Linked DNA regions of Homo sapiens: region 2 is linked to region 1. Evidence: fine-mapped expression QTL. A gene starts in region 1. The other region holds a variant in brackets. All regions are shown on one strand. Distances are from middle to middle. Region 1 holds the start of SCPEP1 (serine carboxypeptidase 1). Region 2 overlaps SCPEP1 (serine carboxypeptidase 1).

What was found.
Region 2: its variant is fine-mapped to the expression of SCPEP1 in whole blood (TOPMed, PIP 0.93).

What each region holds. Positions count from the first base shown.
Region 1 is chr17:56,976,031-56,981,409 of GRCh38, reverse strand. It overlaps SCPEP1 (serine carboxypeptidase 1), which reads right to left and starts at 3,279. Exons shown (of 13, transcript NM_021626.3): 1 at 3,175-3,279; 2 at 180-328. The coding sequence starts at 3,250. RefSeq lists a silencer at 3,337-3,396.
Region 2 is chr17:57,002,743-57,008,121 of GRCh38, reverse strand. SCPEP1 (serine carboxypeptidase 1) reads right to left here. Exons shown (of 13, transcript NM_021626.3): 13 at 1,354-1,949. The coding sequence ends at 1,887. Among named protein-coding and RNA genes, the nearest start is that of SCPEP1, 27 kb to the right of the region's middle. The variant T/C (reference allele first, on the strand shown) is at 2,735.

The DNA.
Region 1 (5,379 bases):
TTTAGCCTCCTTGGCTATACCATTGCCTCAGCCTACCTCAGAAGCACGCCGAACCCCCAGGTCACACTGCTGGACCAAATCCGCCCTTCACTGCTGAGACATCAGCCCAAAAAGCAAGCAAAGAGCCACACAGAGGAGACTTGGCTTTGACCTCAGGCCAGGCTGGGAAGCTACTTTACCTGAAGCCACATGACCAGGGGCAGTTCTGAGAAGTTCTTGCAGGAGTTGGTGGCATAATAGAGCCACCAGAACATGTAGGCATCCTTGCGGACCGTCACATAATCCCATACTTCCTTGCCCTCCTCTGTGGGCCAGTCAATGACAGCTCCTGAAACAGAAGTTCAATTTCACTCTCCAGAAGAGTGCCTAATGTACAGGTAAATTCCAAGCCTGGTAGAGACAGCCATGCTAGGCTAGAGATGATTTGTTTTATAGTTTGGTAATTTAGCCACCCCAGTACATTGCAGGAATAAGGAAAAAACCTCGGCTATGAAAAAAGAAACCAAACTTAACAGCGGCATAGGAGGCCAGGGGCTTTCACTTTTTCCTCTACACTTTTCTGTAATGTTTGGATTTTTAACAATAAATATGAAACACTTTTTTTTTTTTTTTTTTTTTTTTGATACGAAGTCTCGCTCTTGTTGCCCAGGCTGGAATGCAATGGCGCAATCTCGGCTCACCGCAACCTCTGCCTTCCGGGTTCAAGCGATTCTCCTGCCTCAGCCTTCCAAGTAGCTAGGATTACAGGCATGCACCACCACGCCTGGCTAATTTTGTATTTTTAGTAGAGATGGGGTTTCTCCATGTTGGTCAGGCTGGTCTCGCACTCCTGACCTCAGGTGATCTGCCCGCCTAGGCCTACCAAAGTGCTGGGATTACAGGAAATACTTTTATAATTCTGTAAAAACAAGAGAGATTTATATTTTGAGTAAAAAAGTAAAAATCTCAGAATGCAATATACTGGTTTTTATATCGTATTTAATACATGAGTAAGACACCAGGCTTGGTGGCTCACTCCTGTAATCCCAACACTTTGGAAGGCCAAGACAGGCTGATAGCTTGTGCATAGGAGTTCAAAACCAGTCTAAGCAACATAGCAACACCCCATCTCTACAAAAAATGCAAAAATTAGCTGGGCATTGTGGCATATGCCTGTGGTCCCAGCTACTCAGGAGACAGAGGTAGGAGAATCGCTTGAGCCCAGTAGGTTGAGGCTGCAGTGAGCTGTGATCACACCAGTGCACTCCAGCCTAGGTGACAGAGGGAGATCCTATCTCAAAAAAACAAAAAACCAACCAACCAAACAAACAAAAAACATGAGTGAAGAGGCATCACAAATTAGTGGGGCTGAGAATATTCAATATACAGTAATGGAGCAACAATTACCTTTTTTGGAGAAAAAAAGAGAAATTTAGGTCCTCTCAACACTATAAACGAAATAAGTTCCATGAGGATCAAGCAATTAAATTTTAAACTTTAAACATTAAAAAAATACAAAAATATAGTTAAATATATTTCTAATGTCTGGATGAGGAAAGAATCTAAGCAAACCCCAGAGACTGTACAAAAGAAACAATGATGGAGGTGAGAACAGAAACTTGTTATATTTCTATACAACAAAATTTCTGTAAATCAAAAATAAAAAGGCAAACAGCAAGGAAAGAGCTACAACAAATATGAAAAAGGGCAATTTTCCTAACTCATGTAGATGATTTTTTTAAACTGAACGATATATATCTGTGTATGTGTGTTTAATATACGTATCCTATAATCCCCTAACTCCAATTTTCCTTACTTAACTTTTCTAGCATCCACAAAATATGTTTTAGAAAAGAGTAGGCTAAATACATTTTCTTTGTCACTTTTTGCTAACGTAACAATTTCCAAGTTATAGCATCTTTTTTTTTTTCCTCCAAAACCACTCTGGGAAAAAAAAAAGTAGAGGGGCTGTTGTTAAAAGATGATGGGGGGGATCCCCTCGGTGACTGGAGTTTTCTGCCTTCTATTTCCTCCCTTCTCAAATTTCAAGCCCCATTGGTCAGTAAAAGAACACTGGTCCCAACAGCTAAAGAGACAGGAGTAGAGAGGAAGACAATGAGACAACGTCTTGTAAATAAGAAAGAGCCAGGGTGGTGGCCTGTGTCTGCAGTCCGGGCTACTTGGGATGCTGAAGTAGGAAGATCACTTGAGTCAGGCAGTTCCAGACCAGCCTGGGCAACATAGTGAGACCCTGACTCAAAACAAAACAACAATGAAGATTAAGAAAACCAGAAAGTGTCCTGAGGAGCAAAACAGATGACTAAAACATTACAGACTTAGCTATAAGGTTCTATATACAAGTAACACACGATTATATTGTCCTTGACAATAACAGATAAGGCTGCGCTCCCTTGAGAATGACAGATAAGGCGCAGGTACCTTTTGACCTAACCCCAGGCACTTCTCCCTTGCCTGGCAGTGACTACTGGTAAAATTGGCAGAGCTACTTATTTTACAAAATCTCCCAGACACTCGCCTAAGGGCCAGATGATCCCCATTTTAGAAAAGGAAAACAAAACTGTTCAACAACTTGCCTAAGGTCACAAGGCAAGCTTGTGGCCAGTTCCAATTCTCAGTGCTTGCTTCAGACTAGGAGAGGTTTTGCTGAAAATCAATTTGCAAGTCATCCTATTAAACACAAATCTGTTTTTTGCCAAAAAAGATCGCTGTGGGGGAAGATGTTATCTTGTTTGTTTTGATCAAGAAAAGAAAGGGCCTTATCTCAATGAAATGTCCCATTCGTGGTAGGATGTAAGGGTACTTTTGACCGCAGATTTCAGCTTAAAATAAAACGACCTTATATCCTCATTTAGCAGCCAATCATGGCCTTTGAATCGGGGAAACCTCATTGACCAGCAGTTTCCCCAAATCATACATTTCTGCACACAGCTTCTATCTAGGCGTAGGAGAGAACGGAAGCACTCAGACCACCCAGAGCCAGAAAAGGACAAAAAAAGCACTTTGAATTTTTTAAGGAAAAAAAAAAAAAAGAGTGAGATTCAAAAGCAATATAATTACACAAGGTAAGAACCGGGGAAAAGAGACATGTTTTCAAAAGCACAAACCCAGTAACAAACTCTCACGCCTGGAGAAAAAAGAGGCATGGCAGCTGGTGCGCCTCTTGCTTGAACCTACCTGCGTTCAGGCCCAGCAGCAGCGGCAGCAGCAGCAACCACCGCGGGACGGGAGAGCGCCGCAGTGCCAGCTCCATGACAAGTACCGCACGGCAGCATCAGCAACAGGCTGGACCCGGCGCCCCATCACGTGACGGAGGCGGACGGGGCGGGTCGGGGGCGGGGCCTGCGGGTCGGGGGCGGGGCCTGAATGGGCATGGGGCGGGGCCTGGGCGGACCCGGCAGCTTGCTGAGACCCGCACGCCCTCTGCCCGGCAAGCCCACCAGGACCCCTGCAAATGCGCAGGGGCCGTTCTGTCCGCCTGGCCAGGTTCTCTGTCATTTTAGGGAGAGTATTTCGGAAAGGAGACATTTGATGCAGATGTTGGATTTAGGTTGTGTGACCGGATCGAAATACTAAAGGGAATAACCACCGCCCTTTCTACCCCTCCCATCTCTTCCTTCCCTCAGCAAAAGAACCGACGTTTTCCAACACTGCTACATCTGCGAAGTCAGATTAAGCCAGCTGGTCGTTGGCAAACAGCGGGGTTTCATTTTCAGATATGTATTTTTTAAATTATTTTTCTTTTAAAGTTATGTATGTTATAAACGTTTTGGAAATATGAACAAAAAAGTTATACATAACTATTGTTGGCATTTTTTCCCATAGTCTTTTACGTCATTTTAAAAAACACTAATAAAGATTTTTATTTTTTTTTTCTTTTTTGATAATTTGTCATTAGTATTACTCTGTGTTACGTTATCTTCACAGCAGTCATTTTAAAGAGAGAATCGAGGGTCTGGGGACGGGAAAGGAAGAAAAAGTGGATGACAGAGCTGTTTTCCTCTGTGTGTGTGTGTGTGTGTGTGTGTGTGTCTGTCTGTCTGTCTGAAGGTCATTTTTACGTTAGAGGGTACTGAATAACTCACCTCACAGCTAGGAGACAAGCTACAGCAGGGGCTGTAGGAGAGGCTACTTCTAAATACTGCTTCAAAAGTACATGTAACAAAAAGCAAAAAACAAATCAAAGTACATGTGGCCACTTCTCCTCTTTCCCTGCTCCTTTCTCCCTCCCCTCGCCCTTGACCCCCATAAATGGAAGTGCTTTTTACTCTGCAGCCATTGTCTGGACAGAGCCTTGACCCCGCCCTGCCTGTGAGGTGCCCCTGCACTGAAAGCTGCGGCAGAGAAAAATATGCCGCCGGGTTCTGTCATGCTTTAAGCATGGGATGGTCCCGAATGCATAAAATCCATAATGCCTGGGCAACATATTGAGACCCCCTCTCTACAAAAAATAACAAAAATTAACTGATGTGGTGACACGCGCCTGCTGTCCAAGCTACTCAGAAGGCTGAGGTGGGAGGATCACTTGAGCCCAGGAGCTCCAGGCTGCAGTGAGCAGGTGTTCCATGCCATATGGGAGATACATAAAAGTACATGCTTAGTTAAAAATAAATAACTATCTAGCAAACTTTTCCTGTCTGAAGCTTCCAAGTTGGTCTGTATCACTAGGGCTTGAAATACACTTACCCTTCCACTGCAGTCAGAATTTTAGGGTTTCAATTTTTTTGCCACAAAAATAACACTACAGCCCAGGGCGCAAGGTGGCTCACACCTGTAATCCCAGCACTTTGGGAGGCCGAGGTGGGCAGATTACTTGAGGTCGGGGGTTTGAGACCAGCCTGGCCAACATAGTGAAACCCCATTTCTACAAAAATACAAAAATTAGCTGGGTGTGGTGGCACTTGCTTGTGGTCTTAACTACTCGGGAGGCTAAGGCATGAGAATCGCTTGAACCCAGGAGGTGGAGGTTGCAGTGAGCCAAGATGGTGCCACTGCACTCCAGCCTGGGTGACAGAGTAAGACCCCATCTCACACACGCACAAAAAAATTGTGCATTTTATAATACGCTAATATGACTTCAAAAGGAAAAAATATAAATAAAATGTCACCTCTAGTTAATGATATTCATATTAAAGTGTTTAGGGGAAGGTGTACCAATGTATACAATTTTCTTTGAAATGTATCCAGATGCTGGCACAGTGACCTATGCCTGTAATCCAGCTCTTTGGGAGACCAAGGTGGGATGATTGATTGAGCCTAGAAGTTTGAGACCAGCCTGGACAATATAGTGAGACCATGTCTCTTAAAAAAAAAAAAAGTATCCAGAATATAAGATGGATTGATGGATAGGATGGAAAGAAGGTTGGATACATGGATAAATAC
Region 2 (5,379 bases), 27 kb before region 1:
CTGTTTTTAGTCTCAGGGTCTGAAGGGGTTAGTCACGTAGACATAACCTGCTGTTAACTGTTTCCTCACAGTCTGCAGGAATAAGCTTTGGGTTTGTTATTTTTTTTAATTAATTAATTTATTTATTTATTTTTGGGACAGAGTCTTGCTCTGTTGCCCAGGCTGGAGTGCAGTGGCGCGATCTCGGCTCACTGCAAGCACTGCCTCCCGGGTTCACGCCATTCTCCTGCCTCAGCCTCCCAACTAGCTGGGACTACAGGTGCCCGCCACCACGCCTGGCTAATTTTGTGTGTGTGTGTGTGTAGAGATGGGGTTTCACCGTGTTAGCCAGGATGGTCTCGATCTCCTGACCTCGTGATCTGCCCGCCTTGGCCTCCCGAAGTGCTGGGATTACAGGCTGGAGCCACCGTGCCTGGCTGTTTTTTTAAATCTCAGCCTTTGGCCAGGCTTGGTGACTCATGCCTGTAATCCCAGCACTTTGGGAGCCCAAGGCAGGTGGATTGCTAGAGCCTGGGAGTTCGAGACCAGCCTGGGCCACATAGTGAGACTCCAACTCTACGAAAAAATTTTAAAAATTAGCTGGATGTGATGGTGCTTGCCTGTGGTACTAGCTACTTGGGAGGCTGGGGCAGGAGGATCATTTGAGGCATGATTGTGCCACTGCACTCTAGCCTGGGTCACAGAGTCTCAATAAATAAATAAATAAAATCTCAGCCCTGCAACTACAAGAGGTGATATTTCTTTCAGACAGTCCTAGAAGCTGTTAGATCCCCTATGCAGATTTTTTTTTCTTTTTGAGATGGGGTCTCTGTCACCCAGGCTGGAGTGAGTGGCTTGATCATGGCTCACTGCAACATCAACCTCCCTGGCTCAAGTGATCCTCCTGCCTCAGCCTCCTGAGTAGCTGGGACTACAGGTGTGTGCCACCATGCTCGGCTAATGTTTTTATTTTTTTTGTAGAAATGGGGTCTCCCTATGTTGCCCAGGCTGTTGTTGAACTCCTGGGCTCAAGCATTCCTCCTGCCTCGACCTCCCAAAGTGCTGGGTTTATAGGTGTGAGCCACGGCATCAAACCTCCTTATGTAGATCTTGAGCTATGAATAAAAAGTTAAAAGTCCTGAGCTAATTATTTTGATTTTAAGGAAATGTGGCAATCCTCTGACTAAATAATTACACTTTTATGAATTTATTCTAAGAAAATAAGGAGGTACAAAAAAATCTAACTATCAGGGTGAATCAACAGAGCACTATGTATAATAGCAACAAACTAGAAATTATTATACTTGTCGGAAACAACTGGGAATTTTGTAAATAAACTAGAGTACAACCATAAAGTAGAATGCTCCACAGCCATTAAAAATGTTAGAGAAGAACATTTATTGACATGAAAAGGTGTTTCAGATATACTGATATGTCAAACAAATAGTAAAACAACATAGAGTAATGATTCATTTTGGTAAAAAATATATATGTATATATAGAAAAAAAAATTCTGCAAGGACATATGCTAAATTGGTAACAGTGCTTACCCCTGGGAAGGGGGTATACAGATGTTGATTTACTCTTTGGGTACCTGTATTTCCCAGTTTTTCTATAAATCACATCATTTGCTTCTGTCATAAGAAAAAATAATATCTATTATCATCCTTTATTTTGATCAAAACAAATCAATTTTTTAAAAAATCTTAGGTTTTTTTAAGAAGCAGAAATAATTTCCAAATTGCCTCCAGAGACAATGATTTTATCCTCTGCAGAAGCTGGTCAGAACCTTCTTGATCACAGCCCCAGTTAGATACAGGGAAGAATGGCGCTTCCTACAGCTTCAGCGGCCTCAGCTCAGCTCTGTGCCCCAAGGCCAAACCAGCTCATCTCCAGCCCCATCCATCCTATTCTTGCTGAGTCACCAGTCTCATCATCTTCAGAGCCATGTCCCCTTGGTCAGAAGGAACCTAGAAAAAAACAACATCTGAGTTAGTGCTCCTGGTGCTATTCCTGGGGCTGGGGTCAGAGGCAACATCCTGAAACCTTGCTCCCAAAAGGGAGCCAGCTCTGTGACAGCAACCTGTGCAGACACCTGGGCACATCCCTGAGAGAGGGTCCTTCCTGAAAATGACTCCTGCACTGGATGAAAGCTCTTCTGGGCCCTGACTGGGCTGGGTGGCAGGGACCTGGAGAAGTCAGCATTTAAGACAAGAACCTTCTACTCCATTTGGAGCTGATCTGTTGATTTCTTGGTAAGGGTCATGCTAATGATACTAGACCTAGCCTGTTCAAGGAAGAAGGAAGATTCTAAACATTTTAAAGGCATCTGTCTAGAAGGGATCCCGGATTGAGAATAGAGAAATGGCTGAGAAGGGAGCTCACAGCAGAGAGCCGCAAATAATAAAAACAAACAGGGCCCTTTGGGTGGCATCCGATTTTCGCAGTTATTCAACTTTCTTTTGTTTTCCCTCAGATTTTTAGAATAAGTCCTTTAAAATTTCCTTCCCACACAGCATCAAAAGGGGGAAGGGCAGAGGCCTCAGTTTCTCCCTACACAGAAGGGGTTGGAGTATATGGTCTCCCCGTTATGTAATTCCCTGGCTCCATGATTCTCTATGGCACACCCATCCTTGACTCTTCTGCCAAGAGTCCCCAGGAGGCACAGGCAAGGTGGGTTATCCTAAAATGTCATTTAATCAATGAAAGGGGAAGTGGTTTGGGGACGACTTAACAACAGTCTCCAAGGGCTATT[T/C]TAAGCCTGTCCCCAACTGATCTGTTGTTCTATATGTGACAAACCAACAGGAAATGGGCCTGAACTCTAGTATACAGAGCGCGTGGTTGGCTTGTTCCATGCCTTCCTACCAGCCTCGTCAGGGACTTCTCTCTAGGGCAGGCTGAGCATCCCTCATTGGAAAATCCAAAATGCTCCACAATTCCAGCCTTTTTGAGTGCCACCATGAGGCCACAAGTGGAACATTTCACACCTGCCCCATGGGCGGCTGCATTCAAAATGCAGGCGCACAACACACAGTTTATTTCTGCATCCCCAAGGGGGTTACAGTACAGTAACCTTTTAATCAAAACACAGCATTGTAGGTAGAGACCGAAAGCTGCTGTTGCTTGCTGTTGCTGTTGTCTAGCAGCTGACACAGGTATTCTGGTCATGCTACTGTGCTGCTCAGTTACTCTGAACACACAACTTTTCCACTGTATTAATGGTATGTTGTATTTCTTACTGTGAAGTACTTATGTGTGACTACATGCAAGAAAAAGATTGCTTATCGGCAGCATATAAATTTGGAGTCAGAAATGATATGATGCCTAACAACCACAGATTGGTTGAAGAGCCATGGGTGGCTGAAATAGCCACCCTTTGCTCTCTAATAACTCAGTGCACACAAACTTTGCTTCATGCACAAAATTATTTAAAATATTGTACGAAAGTACCTTCGGTCTATGTGTATAAGGTGTATATGAAACATAAATGAATTCCATTGCCTAGACTTGGGTCCCATCCCCAAGATATCTCATTATGGATATGCAAATATTCCAAAATAAAAAAAAAATTAAAAATCTGAAACATTTCTGGTTCCAAACATCTCAGATAAGGGGTACTCAACCTGTAACAGTGCTTGCTCTAAGACGTTCTAATTTTCTTTCTTTTAGTCAATATTGAAGGTACTCAGATCCTGAGAGCCATAAATAATGCCCTCTCCCTCTGTGCCCTGCTGCCTTGTTTGTTCTCCCTTTAGATTAAGTCTATTTGTTTATTTATTGATTTACTTTTTGAGACAGAGTCTCACTCTGTCACCCAAGCTTTCAGGCTCAATCAATCCTCCCACCTCACTCAGCCTCCAGAGCAGCTGAGACCACAGGCAGGCGCCACCGCGCCCAGTTGATTTTTGTTCTTTTTTGAGACAGAGTCTCACTCTGTTGCCCAGGCTGGAGTGCAGTGGCGCTATCTCGCCAGCTGGATGCAATGGCACTATCTTGGCTCACTGCAACCTCTGCCTCCCAGGTTCAAGCGATTCTCCTGCCTCAGCCTCCTGAGTAGCTGGGATTACAGGTGCCCACCATCATGCCCAGCTAATTTTTGTATTTTTAGTAAAGATAGGGTTTCTCCATGTTAGCCAAGCTGGTCTCATACTCCTGACCTCAGGTGATCCACCTGCCTTCGCCTCCCAAAATGCTGGGATTACAGGTGTCAGCCACCATACCCAGCCTAGATTAAGTGTCTTTTGAGAGTGGGCTGCTTTCTCTGGCTTCTTAAAGGAAGCTACTGTCTCTTCTCCTCACTACTCATTCATTTTCTCCAGTCTTTCCAATCTGGCTTCTGAGCTTGCCACCTCACCAAAATATCTCACCAACGCAGGTGCCAAGGACATCGGTGTAAGCACATCATCACTCACGTTTCAGCCCTTCCCCTGAGTTCTCACTTAGCACTGCGGGCCCCTCCCTGCTTTGGGGATGCCACGCATCCCTGGTCTCCCTTCTCACTTATCTGGCTGCTCCTTTCTCAGTCTCATTTGTAGGCTCTTCTTCTGCCTTCTGTTCTATAGGCAATTCAAACTCAGCTTGTGCAAATTCCCTCCATCGCAAACCACAATGCTGGAGCAGAAACCTGCAAGCCACCCTTCAGTTCTTTTCTACCCCAAATGATTACCAAGTCCTGCCAATTTTCCCTTCTTTACACTTCACCAAATCCATCTACTTTCCTCCTTTCTGGATTTACCTGACAGCCTCATTGATTGGTCTTTGGCCCCAGGCTTGCCCCATGCCCTCTACTGCTAGAATGGTATTTCTTGGACAAATCTGTTAATTTCACTCCTTTGCTTAAAACCCCTGCTTGGTGCCCTACTGTCTGAACTCCTTAGAGTGGTATGAAAATTCCCCCTCTGCAGCCACCTCCCTCCAGTGTCCATTCCAAGTCCTCGCTGTCTGAGGCTCCTGTGGACCTTGTATTCACTGCTCTCCATGCTCCCCACCTCCTCCTCTTTCCTTAAATCACTCCTACGCATCACGTGGGGCACAATCTTCCAGATCTGCATGCCTGGGCAGGGCACCCTTCCCTGGGCCAAGCCAGCTGTTGACAGTCTCCTTGCCTGTCTGTCTCTAGACCACAAGCTCCTTGAGGACAGGGACTGGGCACCACTCACCCTTGTGCTCGCAGTCTCTAGTGCTAATAGCGGAATTTTGTTAGGAAACTCAAAACACTCCCAAGCCCTAAGTATTTCTTTTTTAATTTTTCTTTTTTTTTTTTTTTTTGAGACAGGGTCTCGCTCTGTCACCCAGGCTGGAGTGCAGTGGCATGATCTTGGCTCACTATAGCTTCTAACTTTCAGGCTCAATCAATCTGCCCACCTCACTCAGCCTCCTGAGCAGCTGAGACCACAGGCA